4 linked regions of the Homo sapiens genome follow. The protein of the gene in region 1 interacts with the protein of each later gene in a pairwise test. Each region holds a gene or a part of one and is shown in the gene's direction. Other genes may lie near its edges.

Region 1 (4,898 bases):
TTTCCTCCCCAGTGCCCCTGTTTCCTGCTTAGTGACTTTATTTGATCTCACCTACCCATTTTTTTCTCTACAGCAATCATGGGTGCTTATCTCTAAAGAGCTGATATCCTTGCTTCACCTATCCCTGTTGCATTTAGAAGAAGATAAGACTACTGTGAGTCAGGAGGTAAGCAGCCTGAAGATGGAGGTGGAGGCCTGTGGTGGGACTAAAAGCCATAAAGAGGAACCAGACACATTAACTGATTCTTACCATATAGTCTCGGCGTGCAGAAACATTGGTCTGTTGCTGTTTTGATTTGCTGAAGAAATTGAGGGCAAAGCTCCAGAGCCTCAAAGCAGAAAGGGAGGAGGCAAGGCACAGAGAGGAAATGGCTCTCAGAGGCAAGGATGCGGTAAGGTGACAGGCATTTGTTCTTGGATGTGGGAGGTTTCCACCTCAAGGTTCCTGCAGGAACACAAATGCACTTTAGACACAGATGGGTGGCCTAAGAACTGCCTGCCCTGGGCAGTAAAGAACTGATCTATTGAGGTGTCATGGTTACATCTTTTTGTGCTGGCTCCCCTGTTGCCCACTGTGGCCTTGCAACCACTTCCCTCAATAGGCAGAGATAGTGTTGGAGGCTTTCTGTGCACACGCCAGCCAGCGCATCAGCCAGCTGGAACAGGACCTAGCATCCATGCGGGAATTCAGAGGCCTTCTGAAGGATGCCCAGACCCAACTGGTAATTTAAGGGCATTTTCTTTCCTGGGGTCTGTGCTGACAGACTGGGAGGGTAGTTGCATACTCCCACTTTGCTGTATCCAAAGGGAAGGGGTTCCCGCCTAGGCAATCTTTCTTTTGTAGGTAGGGCTTCATGCCAAGCAAGAAGAGCTGGTTCAGCAGACAGTGAGTCTTACTTCTACCTTGCAACAAGACTGGAGGTCCATGCAACTGGATGTGAGTATTTGGGACCATCATAACTAATTCCTTACTCACATCAAGTCCTGTTGTGAGCTTTGCCTCAAGTGTGCTCTACTGACCTGCTTGCTTCCCCTGGTAGTATACAACATGGACAGCTTTGCTGAGTCGGTCCCGACAACTCACAGAGAAACTCACAGTCAAGAGCCAGCAAGCCCTGCAGGAACGTGATGTGGCAATTGAGGAAAAGCAGGAGGTACAAACCAAGAGTGGGGACTGCTTAGGCTTGGTTTCCTTCCTAATGTGTGATACCATTAGCCTCTTACCCTGGATCTGTTTTCTTTTCACCCTGTGGGTTTGGAGGCCAGCCAGTAAGGTCTCTTAGCTGTAAGATGGCCTTAAGCGCAGTTTTTTCCTTTGCCCTTCAGCATCTTTACTTCAGCAACTTTTCTCCTGTCTCTACTTTTTCCTGAGGATCAACCTTATTTTCTGCAATGTTGATGCCCAGGAGCAAGGTAGTTTTCTGTCTTGTCCAGAAAGAGAAGCTGGACCAAGTCCTGGGATTATTGATTCAGGAGGAACTATAGGAGGAAAACCATCTGTTCTTCCTAGGTTTCTAGGGTGCTGGAACAAGTCTCTGCCCAGTTAGAGGAGTGCAAAGGCCAAACAGAACAACTGGAGTTGGAAAACAGTCGTCTAGCAACAGGTGTTTGTGTGTGTGTGTGTGTATGCATGCATGTAAGCATTTGAGCCCTGTTAAGGCTTGGAGTGTGGCACTAGAGCAAGGAAGTACTCAGGAGCACTTGCTTTGGAGCAGAAGTTTGGGGAGTTTCTAGCCTGCTGACCGCATGGTGTCATTAGGATACTTTTGTTCTAGATCTCCGGGCTCAGTTGCAGATTCTGGCCAACATGGACAGCCAGCTAAAAGAGCTACAGAGTCAGCATACCCATTGTGCCCAGGACCTGGCTATGAAGGATGAGTTACTCTGCCAGCTTACCCAGAGCAATGAGGAGCAGGCTGCTCAGTGAGTTCCTAACGGGGTACTGTGGCAGTAGGCATCCAGGATTTAGGACCAAATGGGATCTAATATGTTGTCTCTGGCAGATGGCAAAAGGAAGAGATGGCACTAAAACACATGCAGGCAGAACTGCAGCAGCAACAAGCTGTCCTGGCCAAAGAGGTGCGGGACCTGAAAGAGACCTTGGAGGTAAGGAATATGGCTTGGGCCAAGGGAGCTGGTAAGCCTCAGGAGTGTGATTCTTGCCTGATAGTGTTGAGGTAAGGTTTGAGACTGTGAACTAGAAAAAGCCTCTGTACCCAGGGCACTAAAATTCTCCCTCCCTGTCTTGCTCCTTCTCTTGTCTTCCCAGTTTGCAGACCAGGAGAATCAGGTTGCTCACCTGGAGCTGGGTCAGGTTGAGTGTCAATTGAAAACCACACTGGAAGTGCTCCGGGAGCGCAGCTTGCAGTGTGAGAACCTCAAGGACACTGTAGAGAACCTAACGTAAGTTCTCTAACTTTCTGTACTTCCCCCTAAGTGCTTATTTTTTTCTCAGGAACACTTCTAGAAGCCAAAATCTCCAAGAAGAGAACTGTGAGTGTTGAGCCTCTTGTTTCTCTCCTTTAATGCAGCTCTGTGGGGATTTGGGATAGGCGTTCAGAGAAGGTAATTTGGTCTTTGGTCATCTTCCCTGTTCCTTATTTCAGGGCTAAACTGGCCAGCACCATAGCAGATAACCAGGAGCAAGATCTGGAGAAAACACGGCAGTACTCTCAAAAGCTAGGGCTGCTGACTGAGCAACTACAGAGCCTGACTCTCTTTCTACAGACAAAACTAAAGGAGAAGGTAGGATCCTGGGGTTCCTTCTCTTCTCTTCCAATTGTATCTTTATTTTACAGATAGTCTTCCTAAAACATTACTCTTTTTCTAACTGTGACCTTTTATGATTTCAGTTACCTACAGGACCTCATTAGCCTGTTGCTCAAACCTTTCTTCCCCTGTCTCCTATCTCCCTATTATGAACACTTTGCCCCAGCTAGACTGCCTGTATGCTACACACATGTCCCCATTTTTATCCCCAGAACCCAGACTCTGGCTGTTCCCACATTCATTCTATTCTTTCTTCAAACTGGAAATGCCTTTTCTATTAAAATCCTCCCTTCCGACCTGGGCAACGTGGTGAAAACCATCTCTACAAAAAAATACAGAAATTAGCCCAGGTGTAGTGTTGTGAACCTGTAGTCCCAGCTATCTGGGAGGCTGAGGTGAGAGGATCACCTGAGCCTGGGAAGTTGAGGCTGCAGTGAGCCATGATCATACCTGGCTAATTTTTTTGTATCACTGCACTCCAAACTGGGTGAGAGTGAAACCCTTTCCCCCACAAAAAAAGAAATCTTCCCTGGTTTACCTTCTTTGAACTGTTCCCAAATCAAATCATGTGGACCCGGTGATCTTTTCTTCTGCCATATTTCTCATGAACTTACTCTTCTTTTGTATTTGTATTAATTTTCCTTGGATACCTGGTCTCTTCAACCAGACTATGTTTCAAGAAAGCAGAAATATAGCCTTCTTTGGCCTCCCTGCAGTGTGCACTAAACAATAAATGGTTGACATCATTCAGAATACAAAGGTAATTAGCTTATTCAGCAGATAAGGCACAACAAATATCCTAAAATCTGGCAATTGCTTATGACCTGATCCTCTTCCCCAACTGGGTACCGAGCACAGGAAATGCCATCAAATCTACAGTTTAGCATGGAAGACAAACAGATGTAAACTTGTCATCTTGACTTATGATCATGGTAGAGGTCTGCATGGACCACTGTGAGAGATAGAGAGGGGAGCACCACTTCAGCCTTCGAGAATTAGGATGCCTTCTCAAAGCAGCTGACCTTGGGTACAGTCTTGAGGTTTAGACGTTTGTGGGGCAGGGGAGGGTATTTAGGAAGTCCCACTAGGCAGAGGGAACGGTGTATGAAAGTTTCATCTGACTACATATGAGAGTCGTACGTAGAAAGTCATGCACATAGTACATGATGTGTTCTTTTTTATAGTGTCTACCTTATAAAACCTGGGTTAGGTGCTGGGACTAGAGGATGAACAAGGCAAGATGCTGCTCATATGGAATGCAGCAAGTCTGAGGAATGGGAAGCAGCTCTTCATGGCTGCAGCGTGAGAGCTCTGTGGGGCAAGGCAGGAGACAACACTGGAGAAGTAGGCAGGAGGCCAGATTTTGAAGGCTTGAAATAATGGCAGTTTTATAGGCAGTAGAAAGGAGAGGATGGAGTGAATGGATTCAATAGATATTTAGGAAGCAGAGGCAGTAGAACCAATTTGATGTAAGAGTGACCAATTTGATGTGAGAGTAAGTTAGAAGAGTGAATGATGATCCTTAGATTGCTAGGAAAGAGGGCCCAGCGGGTCAGCTGTGTTAGTGTGTGGAGACTAGGGCTAGTGACACCTCCGGGTCAGCTCTGTGCCCAGGAAGCACTTCAACCTGTGTGGCAGGAGGGATAGCAATAGGAAGCACTTCAATTCCCCACAACTCAGACACCCAGACGGGAGGGCAGAGGACCAAGGCTGAAAGGAGTAGAGAGCCTGAGAGAGAGATGAGACTGAGGGGAGCTAGTGGTGACTCAGGCTAACCAGTCAGCGGGAGAGACCTAGACCGGGGGGCAGAGAAGGCGGGAGAACTGGAGAGAGGACCTAGCCTAGGAGGAGAGGGAGCAGGCTGAGAAGGAAATGCTCTGGGTAGGAGAGACAGACTCCAAGGAAAAATCCAACAAGTAGAGGAGGATTTGGGATTGGAAAAGCTGAGGTCCAGCTGGGAGAGCTGAAGAGGGATAGAACAGAAGAGGTTGAGCCATGGGGTTTCAAGTACGCGGAAAGGAGCAAAGATGTTAGGAAAGGGTCGAAAGGGCACATCCCGGAGTCCCAGGTAGCAGGACGAGGATGGCAGGGGAAGAGCCAAGGAAATGAAGCGGAGATGTTGAGTGGCT
Region 2 (4,898 bases), on another chromosome or scaffold:
AAGCCTTAGAAAACACTTTGGGGATAAATTTACAATTGTGTATAATGAATTTATGTTTTAGTTTGCTTTAAGAAAAATGATGAAATTATGAATTTGTAAAATATGCATTACAAAAGGATTTTTTTTTTTTTTTTTTTTAAGACTGTCTCACTCTGTATCCCAGGCTGGAGTGCAGTGGTGCAACTTGGCTCACTGCAGCTTCTGCCACCTGGGTTCAAGAGATTCTTATGCTTCAGCCTCCTGAGTAGCTGGGATTACAGGTGCGTGCCACCATGCCAGGCTAATTTTTGTATTTTTATTAGAGATGGGGTTTCACCATGTTGGCCAGGCTGGTCTCCAACTCCTGGCCTCAAGATCCGCCCGCCTCAGCCTCCCAAAGTGCTGGGATTACAGTCATGAGCCACTGTGTCTGGCGGATCTTTTGTTTAAAAGTATGAATTGCAGAATTTTAACCAGTGTTAGTACATTTCAACTTGGCTTTGGTTTGTAAATAATCCTTCAAAAGTAGATTACTTGAATTAAGGCATTAAAGACAAAGAATTGATACAGTACATAGATCTAGTTTTCTAATATTAATTTGGAAAACTTTTATCCTAATATTATCCTAATAACAATGCCTGAAATGTCATGTTGTAATGTTTGTATTATATTGAAAGTTAAAAACATTTATAGCAATGTTCTTGGAGCATCAGGCAATTCAAAGAGGACATAGGTCCTGCCTTAATCTTACAAATAATGACCTGCAAATAAGACAGAAACACAACTTGAATAAAAAAGCCTTTGAGAGGCCAGGCCCGGTGGCTCACGCCTGTAATGCTAGCACTTTGGGAGGCTGAGGTGGGCAGATCATGAGGTCAGAAGTTCAAGACCCGCCTGGCCAACATGGTGAAACCCCGTCTCTACTAAAAATACAAAAAAATTAGCTGGGCGTGGCAGTGTGTGCCTGTAATCCCAGCTACTTGGGAGGCTGAGGCAGGAGAATCGCATGAACCCAGGAGACAGAGATTGCAACGAGCCAAGATCATGCCATTGCACTCCAGCCTGGGCGATAGAGCAAGACTCAGTCTCAAAAAACACCAAAAAAACAAAAAGCCTCTGAGAAATATACAATTTTTAGTGAAGGTGGCTGGGTACAAGGAGATTAGTAGAAGTGCTTGACTGGAGCAGTTGTGGCCAAAGTATAGCTTCCTTGTGATGAGACACAGGAAGAGATGTCTAGACTCATGTTGTGTGCATATTTCATGGCAGTATGTGGGAAACCCCTGAGAGATTTTAGATCTTTCTTCCCACCTTGGTCCCCATCCCTCACATATCCTCACAAAGTCATAAAATTCTCATGTGGAAGGCGTGATAGAAGGAATTTTTCTTCCTGAAAAGTGTTATCAAGCTTGCAAGGGAGAGAGCTATTTTCGGAGACCTTATAGGGAAGAAATCCTAGTCCTAGAGCATCATATTCTTATACCCTGTTATTTTTACCTTTGTCGAAGATCCAGATAATGTAAATTCTCCATGATAGCAAGGACCTTGTCTGTTTTGCTCACCATTGAATCTCCAAATGTTCAATAGTTAATGAATGAAAAAAGTCTACTTCCAGATATATGACTGGAGAACAAAAGGAGTATCTGATAATGTAGTCCAAACTAAATGCAAGCAGCGAAATGATAAAGGAAGGATGTTAGCTTGGGAGAAGGGGAACAGGTCATTTAATCTGGGAAACTTTCTTGGAGGAGGTGATTCTTGAGTTAGGTTTTGGTGTGGGCTGTGTGTCTGAAGATAAGCAGTGTCTAAGGGGGTAGACAACGTGCAGCAAAGCATTTAAGTCAGACTGAATAAATTATGTCAGATAAAGCACAGTAAGTCTTTTTTTGTAACATTATGAAGAATTTTTATTCTCCCATCTCTATTTTCACCTCTCCCTAAATAAAAAGATTAACTTGCTTTGCAACAGCAGAGATTGACAGTACTTGAGTTTTGGAAGTACGATAAGGGTCAGAAAATTTGAATTGGTGTTCTGACTGAATCTTATACAAGCGTCGTTTCCATCGGCCAATCACTTGGTCTTAGTTTTCTCATTTGTAAAATCAGGATAATAATCCATGATCGTTGGGAGAACAAAGTTATATAATGCATGTGAAAGTGCATACCTCAATATGAATGTGCCTACCTCAATGTGTCACACATAGGAGGACTTCAGCAAATACAAAATTATTAAAACGTTTGTCTGCAGATCTTTAAAACATATTTTGATTCGTTTATCATGAACTCTAATATTTGCTTGACTCATCTAGATGACTCATGGCATTATGTTTAAATTGATCAGAATCAAAATTCTAGATAATTTTCTTTCAGTCAGTTTAATGTTTTCTGGTAGAAATGAGGCCTAATTGTATTACTGCTTAATGTTACAGACCACAAGGAGTGCTAGAAGCCTCAAATTTTTGAAGCTCAAAGTAAGGGATATGTGTAGCTGAAAATCTGAGCCTTTAAGCTTTTTTTCTCTACGTAATTTGTTTTTGAAGAAATTGTCTTTGCCTGTAATGTCATTTATCTATTCATTGTTGTGATGAAATAAGGGGTTTTCTGGTTGTTAAGAAAAAATTTACCAAAAATATTTTCTGTTTTTAGTGATGTGACTATAAGCCATGAAGATCTCTACCATCTGTGTTTTATTATAAAATTCAGTATTTCTTGAGCAAACAAACAGACATCTGCATTATTTCTTATCTAAGCTTTTTGTGCCAGTAGCTGTTCATTTATGAATCTCAGAATTTCATTATACTTTGTGAACTCTTTGTAGTGTTTTTGATCCATGGAGCAGTCTGTCCTTTGTATAATATTTGGAAGAGAATTTTATTATAAAAAGACTAAGAAGAGTCTTGAGCCTTTTTATTATACAAAGACTAAGAAGAGTCATCAAATGATAAGCCAGTTACCTACTAATTTCCATATTCAAAAAGGACTGAAAAAAAGAGGAAATGGTTTCAGAGCTTGACTTTTTTCAAATAAAAAGGAGAAGCTTTTTGATTTAGAGTTTTTGAAAACTTGATAGATTCAGAGGGAAATTGTTATAGGTCATATTAATAGCTAATGTGCGTCAACTGCTATATACCAGGTACTGTACTACTCTAGAAGTACTTGACATGTCATCACATTTGATCCTGACAACCACCCCGCAATCAGGCTATTTTCTTTTTTTTAAACCTGAGCAACTGACAGATTAAATAAGTGGTGGAGCCAGGATTTGAACTAAACCTGAGGCACAGAGAAGTTAAGTAGTAGGTGGTAGAGCCTACTAAAAGGATTTAAACTTGAGGTTTAACCTGACCTTTGACTTTGGAGCCTATCCTTTTAACCATCATATTATATACTGCCTTGTATAATTTATTTGCAGTTGCTCCTCTTGATACGTCTTGACCTTGTGATCTTCCTGAGTCTGTTTTAGTTGTGTCATTTACAAAATGCACTTTACTTTATAAGAAGATGGAATATAGCCTTGATTTTTTTTCTCTCATTTTACTTGTATTTGACTGACATCCTATTTTTAAATCTTAAAAATACTTAGAGTAAAGCAAATATTTATTTTATTGTTCATCCAGTTGCCATTTTCTCACTGGGGAATTTCAGAGAATTTCGGAGTAACTGGAAATTAAAGAACATAATAGATAACAGTATTTAAAGCTAAGTTGTTATAATTAAAAAATAGTTTTAAAGAATAAGGCTGATTCACAGAATTGGTATGCATTTTTTTTTAGTGTTTTTTTTTTTTTTTTTTTGAGATAGAGTCTCACTGTGTCACCTAGGCTGGAGTGCAGTAGTGTGATCTTGGCTCACTGCAACCTCTGCCTCCCGGTTTCAAGTGATTCTCATGCCTGAGCCTCCTGAGTAGCTGGGATTACGGGTGCATGCCACCATGCCCAGCTAATTTTTTGTATTTTTAGTAGAGATGGGGTTTCACCATATTGGCCAGGCTGTTCTCGAACTCCTGACGTAAAGTGATCCACCTGCCTCGTCCTCCCAAAGTGTTGAGATTACAGGCGTGAGCTACCTCCTCTGGCCTTTTTTTTTTTTCTTCTGATACAGGGTCTTGAGCTGTCACCTAGGCTGGAGTGCAGTGGCACTCACTACCATGGCTCACTGCAGCCTCGACCTCCCAGGCTCAAGTGATCCTCCTGTCTCTGCCTCCCAAGTAGCTGGGACTACAGGCGAATACCATCACACCTGGCTAATTTTTAAGTTTTTTTTTTTTTTTTTAGAAACAGAGTCTCACTATGTTGCCCAGCTTGGTCTTGAACCCCTAGCCTCAAATGATTCTCCCACCTTGGTCTCCCAAAGTGCTGGGATTATAGATGTGAGCTGCCATGCCAGGCCTATTTAGTGATATTTGAGGGACACAGATCTGTACAGTTGAAATCTGTCCTGTTGAGATGACCACCAGTAAGGTAATTTTTGCTTTTTGGCTGCCAAATGCCTACATATTAGCAGGAATAGTTTGTCAGATTACATAATTTTTTACAAGGAAGGCTGGGGCCCATGTGGAAATTATGGAATCTATGTTGGTATATTTTGATGGGATGGAAGTATGGTAGATCTGGAGAGAGAGAAGTTCAATCTAAGTAACATTATTACCGGGTAGAGTAATGAGGTGGGGTGCTTTGGATGTGAGGGCACAGGTACATTGTTCAAGTGGAGAGTAGGATGAGGGACTTCTGGAGACTAGCTTTGCTTAGTGTGTAATTTTGTGCATTGTTATGATTATAATAACTTGTAAGATCAGCAATTTGGAAGTAAAGAAAAGCAGTGCTGTGCATCATAGTGTGGAGTTTGTAATAGTTCTAGGCTGTTTTGCAAGATGTAGGTGCTTTACAAATATCCATTGGTAGTAATGGAAGTGCTCTGTC
Region 3 (4,898 bases), on another chromosome or scaffold:
TCTGAGATCTGAAGGTTTTATCAGGGGTTTCCACTTTTGCATCTTTCTTACTCTCCCTTTGCCTGCTGCCATCCATGTAAGACGTTACAGGTGCAAGTAGCTCCTCCTTGCCTTCTGCCATGATTGTGAAGCTTCCCTAGTCATGAAACTTTAAGTAATTAAACTCTTTCTTTTGCAAATTGCCCAGTCTTGGGTATGTCTTTATCAGCAACTTGAAAATGGACTAATACACTGTGTCTACCTCAGTGCCTGACACGTATTAGATATGTGATGAAAATTCATTAAATGCATCACCTAATGTCTTGCTCCTTCTCTTGTAGACTCTAGGTTACTTGCAGGGGAATGGGCACATCTCTTTCATCCCTTTCATTCCTGTATCACCTGCAGCATCTAGCTCTACATCTTGCTAATAGCAAAAACTCATTTTCTGCCTTGTAGAATGAACTACTACGAAGGCCTTGAGAGTCATCCCCTCATCTGATGTGAAGCCGAGGGTATCCCAGCTAACACTCATTATACTAGAACAACTTCCCCCTCCTCCTACAGCTTCAGGGAGTTCATGGAACCACTTGAAGCTCCTCCAGTATCCCCACTCTCTGAGCTCATTGAAGAGCTCTTAGAGGTGAAAAGTCAGCAGAGAGACCATTGTCAGTGCCACTCTGTCAAGAGCCCGTTTTTCAGCATCTCACTAACTCTGACATTTCCCATCTCATTCTCTTTCTTCTTGCCAAGAGCCACTGCTTCTTTATGGTCACTGTGTTCTCTCTGTTACCTCCTTTAAAGCTTTCTTGACTCTGCTCCTCTCCTTTGCTCTCTTCTCTGTGTTTAGCTTTGAAGCCCCAACTGCTCACATGCAGTCCTAGGATTTCTCTCCCCACCTGCAGCAATGCCCCTTTTCCCTAAGAGTTCCTGCCCTGCCCGTAGCCCCTGGAGGCTGTTCTGGAGCTGTTCTGGGCTGTCCTAGCTGAGGTGCTGGAATCCCTCTGCTCTTCCTTTTTCTTCCCCTGGCACAGTGCCACTTGCCATCTTTCTGGGCATCTTCCTCTTGCTGTCAAAAAAAAAATACCGACAGAGAACTACTTAGGTGAAGGCTGAGAGGCTGACATAAAAAAAATATTATTAGTTGGCCTGAGAGAGTGTAATAAAGGGAGTTTTATGAGGTATGACAGCTTTCTAAAGTTAACAAACCATCTGGCATTATGTCAAACAGACAAAGAGCTTGCCAGGAGCTGGCACTGGTGCCCAGCCCCATTTGGGCATGGTGGGATTGACCTTCCCCTCCTTACCTGGAGGCCACATTTGCTGTTTCTCCACAGTGAAAACAGTAAATGGGAATTCTTTGGTAGTGCAGAGTCTGAGTCTGTTCCCTCTGCCCAGCGTCTCTGTTTAGAACATACTGCAGGAGTGTCCACTGTACCAAGAAGGGTAGAAAGGGTCAAAAGAAAGCACGAGCCTGGCTTTGAGCAGCCTGCTTTGGTAATGTATCCCAAGGCCACAGTACAAAAGTCAAGAATACGTTGGACAGAAGACACCTTAATTGGAAACCTCCTTTGACTTAGTGTGAGAGGACAAGACACAATCCCAGTGTGGATGTTTTGCTCATCAAACAGGGCCCAGCACACACACCAGCCAGGTGCCCTCTTCCATGCAGTCAGCACCACTGCTAGTTTGGGGTCTTGACTAGAGGTCCACCTTTGGCCCACAGTTGCCCTGGGTAGGCCTGACAGACTCAGGGATGGTCTCTGTTGGCCTCTCCTAGGTACGCTCCACCTGCCCCCGGTTTAAGGGAGCATGACCGATGTGGCCGCATTTCAGGAGCACTAGGATATAATCTAACCTGGAGGCCAATTGTAAACAAGGGTTATTTAAGTAGCTTCACCAAGTATCATACTACCTGGTTATATTATCTTCTCACAGGCTGGTGTGAATCTCTGAGGCAGCCATATAAGTAAATAATAGGCTAGCAATGATAGCAGTTAACCTCTATTGAACTCCTGTTATGTGGCAGGCACTAGGGGAAGAACTTGGCACAGGTAGCCTGCCTGCCCACAGCAACCCTAGGTAGTAAATATTGGTATTCCCATTTTGCAGATGAGGAAATTGAGTCTAAAGAGTTTAAGAAAGTTGTCCAAGTCACATAGCTCGTAAGTGACAGGGCTAGGATTTGAACTCAAGGTGGTCTAAATCTAAAATACCTCCTTATCTGAGGCAAGAGGATTGCTTGAAGCCAGAAGTTTGAGACCAGCCTGGGCAACAAAGCAAAGCCCTGTCTCTACAAAAAATTTTAAAAATTAGCTGGGCATGGTAATGCATGCCTGCATTCCTAACTACTATGAGCTCACCACTGCACTCCAGCCTGAGTGACAGAGCAAGACACCATTTCTAAAATAAAATAATAAATACAAATAAAATACAATATAAATAAAATAATAAAACCTGCTTTTTACCCACCTATGAAGCCTGTGAATGTAGTACAAATGCCACACCCTTGAGCAGCTGTGGAATTCTGGGTTACAGGGAGATAGTTAGATGTAAGAATTTATGGTGTGAAGTGCTAGCTCTGTTACCCTAAAGGATAATGCAAACAATGAATGCTTGCTTCCCATTTCAGTTTCTTCATTTATAAAATAGGCACATGCAGCCAGGCGCAGTGACTCACACCTGTAATCCCAGCACTTTGGCAGGCTGAGGTGGGTGGATCACGAGGTCAGGAGTTCAAGACCAGCCTGGCCAAGATGGTGAAATCCTGTCTCTACTAAAAATACAAAAATTAGCTGGTCGTGGTGGCAGATGCCTGTAATGGTGAAACCCTGTCTCTACTAAAAATACAAAAATTAGCTGGGCATGGTGGCAGGTGCCTGTAATCCCAGCTACTTGGGAGGCTGAGGTGGGGAACGGCTTGAACCCAGAGGCGGAGGTTGCAGTGAGCCAAGATCATGCCACTGCACTCCAGCCTGGGCAACAGTGTGAGACTGTCAAAAAAAAAAAAAAAAAAAAAAGCACGGGCAAAAAACATACCCCTAATATTTTTAAAACAAATATTTTCACTGAAGCTGCCTCTCACTGCCACCACTGCCATTGCTACCTACAGATGTTCCTGAGCAGTTGGAAGTTCTTTGTCTCATCTGATATATATATATATATTTTCAAAGACCCAAAATACTTTAGTGATGGAAACAGTAATCTGTGACTAAAGATATTTGTTCAATCTGAATTTTTTGTTTGTGTGTTTGTTTGCAGAGAATGGCAAATCGGTTCATTGGAAACTTGGAGCTGATAAGGAAGTCTGGGTATGGGTGATGGGCGAACACCATCTAGATAAACCCTATGATGTGCTCTGTAATGAAATTATTGCTGAGAGGGCCCGGCTGAAAGCAGAACAGGAGGCAGAAGAGCCCAGGTATGAGATCTGCAAACCAACCAGAGACTTAAAGACTCTCCAGACTTTAGAAAACATTGCAAACACACCTCTTGCTCACAGTATCAGGTGGGAGAGTAGGGTTGGGTTGGAGGGTCACAAAAGTCACTTTGGATCTCTTTGGAAGGTTGATTTAGACTTTTGGTCTAAAGACCTTTTGGATCTCTTTAGAAGGTTGATTTAGACTTTTGATCTAAAGTCTTTGATAGCACTAAAGACCTCATGAAAATCTTTAGTGCTGTCAAATCAGCTGCTTCATCTCCCTGCTTGTCATTCCAGTTTTGATCTGTATGAGTGTATGAGTTCCCCAGTGATCACCCGTGGCTGCACTAGAGTCATGTTAGAGCAATGCAGGCCGACGCAGCTGAGTATCAGGAACATATGTGAGAAATGCAGTGACTGTGCAAGCTTCAGGCCTTCCAAGGAGATCACTTAGATACAGGCGGCTGGATAATCAGGCTCTTTAGGTGCCTACCCAGTGCAAGGTACTGGGAATTCAAAGAGAAACAGGGAGCTTCCAGTCTAGGAGGAGAAGTAGACATATGCACAGCTCACTGCGGCCAGTGCAGGCTGTGATTTGTGCTATAATTAAGGTACAAACAGAAAGTTTACCAAGCATAGGTGGGAACCTATCATTCTGATCCACAGACGAGGTGAAATCTGAACCAAACCTTGAAAGGAGTGGTTTTCCAGCTACAGAAGGCCAGGAAGGAAAGTGCAGGCAGAGGGCTTAACCAAGATCCCTAGACTTGACTACGGATGGTTCTTTGGGGAATGATGAGGTCTTCTGAGCATTTGGAATACACTTGGACAACTGCTTCAGAGGCCAGATTTAGGAGTTTGGAACTTATTCTCTGGACGGTGAGGTTTTTCAATAGGGAAGTGACATCAACTGCAGATGTAGGAAGGTAACTCGGAGGGAAACTGAGGCAGGTGATGGCGCTCCTCTGCTGGGTACCTGGGGTGCTCTGGGTGTCCTCCTCTGGCTCTGGGCAGTGATGTTGACAGCCTTACCCTGAGGTGGTGAAGTGGAAATTGGGACAGACATGAGGACCACCGTTCAGTTCCCAAGGGCTAGGGATGCAAAGCAGACTCTGTGGCACAGTGGATGGTGCATTGGACTTTCAAGGGCTGGGATGCTGCCCACTAGTGCCTGTAACTTTAAAACTATCCATGGACATATGAAGATAAAGGAATTATTTAATCATCGATTGGAAGCAGACGGTGTGGTTCTAATAGGTTAACTTCTAAACCAGGAGTTGAGCAGACCAGGGTTCAGATCTTGGCTGTACCACTATGTGGTCTTGGATGAATTACAAAATTTCTTGGAGCTCTTATAACAAAGTGAGGATGACAATGCCTTCCTCACAGGGTTGTGATGAGGATGAAGTTAACGTCTTTACACACCTAGCAAAGGGCCCAGCATGTTAGAAGCACTCAGTAAGTGGTGTCAGTTACTGTTTTTCACATAATTTGAATG
Region 4 (4,898 bases), on another chromosome or scaffold:
ATTTGTTAATTGTTTTCTGTCTCTGTTGTAGCTCTTTTGTCTCTCCCTCTCTGCCGTCTTCCTTTGTGGTTCATTGGGTTTTTTTTTTTTTTTGTAGTGATATACTTTGATATCTTTCCCATTTTTCTCTGTTTATCTTTTATAGGTATAGGGCATGGTAAAACAATCTGTTTTAAGCTGATAACATCTTACGTTCAATCACATATAAGAGCTCATTTTTGTTCTGTTGAATTTTTTTTTTTTTTTGAGACAGGGTCTCACTCTGTTGCCCAGGCTGGAGTGTGGTGGTGTAGTGTGATCATAGTTCACTACAGCCTCAAACTCCTGAGCTCCAGTAATCCTCCTGCCTCAGCCTCCCAAATAGCTGGGACTTGTAAAATTGGCCAGTTGTGGTGGTGCATGCTGTTTGCTCACAAGTAGCACATGCCACCCTGTCTCTTTTGCAGAGACAGGGTCTCACTGTGTTGCCCAGACTGATCTCAAACTCCTGGACTCAAGCGATCCTCTCATCTCAGCCTCCCAAAGCACTGGGATTACAGGAGTGAGCCACCGCACCTACCCTCCCGTGCCGCCTAATAGGTAGAATAATTTCTCTTATTTTCCTGAGGATATTAGTTATGGTTTGTTGAAGTTTTTTCCTATTTCCTTTCTTTTCTTTATGTTTGTTGTGTTCTCTCTTTCACATTAGAGGAGTTCCTAAGATGCCTGATAATCCATGCCCAACTTTATAAGTAGGAACTAAAAAGCAGATTGGAATCTCTGAGCACACAAATGGCACTTGTTGACTTTGAGCTTCACTTTAAAGTGGTCTGGCTGGGTCATTTGTTAGAGAAATTCCTCATCCCAAGTCAGTATTTTTATATCTTTCCTCCTAGGACTTACCAGTTTTCCCAGAGAAGACTTCCAAAATCTTTCTTACGAGGGTACTACCAGCGTTCTAGGAGCCAAATGGCAGAAAAGGACTGGGAGGACCTCAACATTTAGTATTCTCTTAGTTTCCTTGCTTTCAGAAACAGTGTTCACATCTTCAGCCATGTATGGCATTCCCCATCTTCTGACAATGAGCCTCAAGTTTTCTACCAGGATTGGCAAGTTATCTTTTACCCCATAGCATATTGTGAGGGAGGGTATTTAAAAATCATATTGGCTTTTAGACAGCCTTCAACTGATTTGCCTTATTTTAACCCCATCCCTTCACATTTATTTCTGAAGGTAAGTGAAATTATCAGTTCCTGAACTATTTAAGGATTCTTAAGTGGTGACAGGTGTGTTCTTGGCTCTCTCCACTACCAGTTTAAAATTCAGCTTTCTTCAGTGTGCTGAGTTGGTTCCTGCTCATCCAATTATTTTTCATCTTCCAGATTATTATTGCTGTTGTCTCCTTTTCTTGTTCCTCCTGACCTTGTTGATTTGTGTTTTTTTTTTTTTTTTTTTAAGTGCCTATAGTTTTAGAGAGTTTTCTGGATGGAATGAAATTAAATGAATGTGTTCAATCCACCATTTTTATGTGAAACTAATTCTAATCATAATGAAAGAGTTTTCTTACGGCTGAGCATGGTGTCTCACGCCTGTAATCCCAGCATTTTGGGAGGCCAAGGCGGGTGGATCACCTGAGTTTGGGAGTTCAAGACCAGCCTGGACAACATGGTGAAACCCCACGTCTACTAAAAATACAAAAATTAGCCAGGTGTGGTGGCACATGACTGTAATCCCAGCTACTCGGGAGGCTGAGGCATGAGAATCACTTGAGCCTGGGAGGCCAAGGTTGCAGTGAGCAGAGATTGCGCCACTGCACTCCAGCCTGGGTGACAGAGTGAGACTTTGTCTCAAAAAGAAAAAAACAAAGAGTGCCTTACCTCCTTTATATGATATTTTGGTTGATCCTCAATTTGTTTTAGGTATTATACCTGAAGAACCTTAGCCCTCGGGTGACTGAAAGAGATCTTGTGTCATTGTTCGCTCGGTTCCAGGAGAAAAAAGGACCTCCAATTCAATTCCGAATGATGACTGGACGAATGAGGGGCCAGGCTTTTATCACCTTTCCCAGTAAGTAGTTTCATCCAGATGATTACTCAGTTGCCCCTCAGTTCGCTAGAGATTACCTATAACCTCTCTAATTTAGATATAGTCCTTTGATTTCTCCACAGCATGTGAGAACAAGACAATGAACGAAAAATATGTTTTCAGTGTTTCTTTCTGTTTCCTCTCCTCCATTGACAGTGCATGGCCACACTACCCCAGTGTCCTCAGTTTTTCCCAGTCTTGGTACTTCCTTCTTACCCTACCAAAATCTGTACTCCCTTCACTGACAATAGTATTTCTAGTCCAAGTTATAATTAGATTACTCATTAATTAATGTATTAGTATTCTGATCAGAACACATGTACTTGGCTTATGCGCTGTTCCTTTAGGACTAAGTGAGAGCAAGCTAATATACTAATTTATTACTAATTCATAATTAGTAGATGATGATACAGTCTTCTAAATATTATTTGCATATTAATTAATGCATAGCTTCTAATCCAACTGGAAGAATAATATGCAAATTTCAGTTTCTATGACAGACCAGATAATATGTTGTTTTGGGGGAAGGCTTTGTAGGATCTGTACCTTTCATTGTCCCTAAAGTATCGTCATTTCTAAATAGCCTATTAATCTATATGTGGGCAAGTGGTTTTACACATGAATACTGCCAAACTCCCCTCCATTGTTTTCATACAGTCTTGTATCATCTTTCCTATCATACTGAAGGTTTTTAAATCCGCTATACCAGTGGTTTTCAGTCTTTTCAAGTGTAAGAACCCCTTTTAAATTTAAAAAACCGTTTATGGGTGCCCCACATAATACGATGTATTAGTTGAAAAAATACATAATAAAAAGGCTTTTTAAAGCAAGTACTTTAAAATGTGTAGCTGTTTTACTAATCTTGAAAGCTATACACTTAAAAAAATTTGTAGTACTTATATATATGAAACAAAATTGGTTTAGTCTACTTGTCTACTTAGGATTCCACAAACTCCTGGCCACAAATCATCCCTTCCTTATTTCTTACATCCAGGCTCTTAGACCCATAAGTTGAATACTCCTGGCATGTAGTATATATTCTCACATTTCAACCTTCAATATGCCTACAAGTGTTCTTATACTTATTTATCCCAATAAGGTGGCCCAGAACCACTCTCCCACTGAAAAAAAAGTGGCAAAGTGCCCTTGATAACATGATAACTTCTTTTGTGTTACTCATTTTGAAAATGATTGATTCTAATAATACCTATAATCTGTTACCTAAGATAGAGACTTGTGTATAATTACTAATAGCTTAGACTTCTTTAGCACGCTGCCTATGTCTTTGTTTCTCTACTTGTTTCTTTGAATTAGGAGACACCCTCAAACACCGATTTTGAGTTTTTATTGTTATTATTTTTGCCATTAATTTAATTTTGCTTAATAATGCAAATGGGAGATTATAGAAAAAATGATCAAATCAAATGACTATATGGCCTTATAGCTTACATTTAACTCCAAGGCAAAATAATCTAAACTAAACCTGGAATAGAATTGAATTATTAAGTCCTATGTAAATTGAAATTTTTTCTTTCTCTTTTAGATAAGGAGATAGCATGGCAAGCATTGCATCTAGTAAATGGATACAAACTACATGGGAAAATATTGGTGATAGAGTTTGGAAAGAACAAAAAGCAACGGTCAAATCTCCAAGCGACTTCTCTCATATCATGTGCTACAGGTAGCACTACAGAAATTAGTGGTAGCTAGAATATATATAAATTGTGGGTCCTGGATGGTCTTTCTTGAATTGGAATCTTGGATCTAGGATTTATGTATAGACACCAGTTTGTTTGGAGTTGAAGAGGAAAAACTAACTGAGGGAGGGGAAAAAAGTAATTTCAGCTTTTGGAGAGAACTGGTAGAAAACATTTTCTATTATATAATTGAAGACTATATAGGACAGATGATATGCTGAGTATGAAGGGTAAAGTGCAAAGAGTATTATTTTCTCAGGATGAATTACAACGGATTATTCCTAAGGATTTTTAAAAATCTTTATAATTTTTCTGGGGTCCTCAATATTTGTCTCTAGAGATAACATTCTTTCTTAGACTGCTTCGTATACACAGAAATAAAAAACTAATTAAATGTTGAAATATTTCTTTACTAGAGCCCATTTGCCATATTTCATCCACCTAGTAAATAAAAGAGTAGGACCCCCAGGCCTAAGCATCAACAAATGCTATTAAGTCAGAACTATCAGCAGTAATAGTAGGTAGTTTCATAAGTCAGTTGACTTATTTAATGAATGCTTCCTCCACAAGTTATCAGTCTTCAAAAAGCTATATATTTTTCTAGTGAAATATTTTAGATCAAAATGTTGGTGTTCTCACAGCCATTTAAGCTAGCAACCATTGAGTATCATTGAATTCATAGCAATAAACATTGATTAAGTGTCTAATATATGTTAAATATTAGGCATATGAATTTTAGAAGAGGAACATACAAGCAAAGAATGCCAAACGGAAATGGAAATAAAGCGTTCTCTAGAAAAGAGGATGCCAGTCACAAATCCCCCAGTTGTTTGTTTATGGTTGCTGGAAAATAAAAAAACAATATACAGAGAGGAAGTAGTACAAACTGGAGTCAGACCTGTACAGCCACACTTAACATTCTATGACCTTGGCAAGTCACTTAATCTGAGCCTCACATTTTTCATCTATAAAGTGAGGATAATAATGCTACTTACCTCACTGGGTTGTGAAGATGAACTGAGATATTATCCAGGCTGAAGAACAGAAAGGAAAACAATGAATAAAATTGAACAAGAGTATAGAACCTGTGTGACACCATTAAGCATTCCTACATATTTCTAATGGGAGTACAGGAAA

What was found. The genes of interacting proteins can lie anywhere in the genome.
Region 2: the proteins of SPAG5 (region 1) and OSBPL8 interact in binary tests that used the Homo sapiens proteins (3 or more experiments, as listed by UniProt).
Region 3: the proteins of SPAG5 (region 1) and SH2D4A interact in binary tests that used the Homo sapiens proteins (3 or more experiments, as listed by UniProt).
Region 4: the proteins of SPAG5 (region 1) and RBM41 interact in binary tests that used the Homo sapiens proteins (3 or more experiments, as listed by UniProt).

The regions. Positions count from the first base shown.
Region 1 is NC_000017.11:28,581,358-28,586,255, reverse strand, and holds part of SPAG5 (sperm-associated antigen 5), read left to right. Parts: intron 1-73; coding exon 74-166; intron 167-257; coding exon 258-392; intron 393-602; coding exon 603-722; intron 723-844; coding exon 845-937; intron 938-1,040; coding exon 1,041-1,154; intron 1,155-1,510; coding exon 1,511-1,604; intron 1,605-1,775; coding exon 1,776-1,923; intron 1,924-2,003; coding exon 2,004-2,106; intron 2,107-2,269; coding exon 2,270-2,403; intron 2,404-2,606; coding exon 2,607-2,745; intron 2,746-4,898. UniProt on the Homo sapiens protein: Essential component of the mitotic spindle required for normal chromosome segregation and progression into anaphase. Required for chromosome alignment, normal timing of sister chromatid segregation, and maintenance of spindle pole architecture.
Region 2 is NC_000012.12:76,552,852-76,557,749, reverse strand, and holds part of OSBPL8 (oxysterol-binding protein-related protein 8), read left to right. Parts: intron 1-4,898. UniProt on the Homo sapiens protein: Lipid transporter involved in lipid countertransport between the endoplasmic reticulum and the plasma membrane: specifically exchanges phosphatidylserine with phosphatidylinositol 4-phosphate (PI4P), delivering phosphatidylserine to the plasma membrane in exchange for PI4P, which is degraded by the SAC1/SACM1L phosphatase in the endoplasmic reticulum.
Region 3 is NC_000008.11:19,329,715-19,334,612, forward strand, and holds part of SH2D4A (SH2 domain-containing protein 4A), read left to right. Parts: intron 1-3,240; coding exon 3,241-3,400; intron 3,401-4,898. UniProt on the Homo sapiens protein: Inhibits estrogen-induced cell proliferation by competing with PLCG for binding to ESR1, blocking the effect of estrogen on PLCG and repressing estrogen-induced proliferation. May play a role in T-cell development and function.
Region 4 is NC_000023.11:107,066,403-107,071,300, reverse strand, and holds part of RBM41 (RNA-binding protein 41), read left to right. Parts: intron 1-875; coding exon of another isoform or gene 876-1,111; exon of another isoform or gene 1,112-1,898; coding exon 1,899-2,046; intron 2,047-3,607; coding exon 3,608-3,774; 3' UTR 3,775-4,485; coding exon of another isoform or gene 4,486-4,493; 3' UTR 4,494-4,898. UniProt on the Homo sapiens protein: May bind RNA.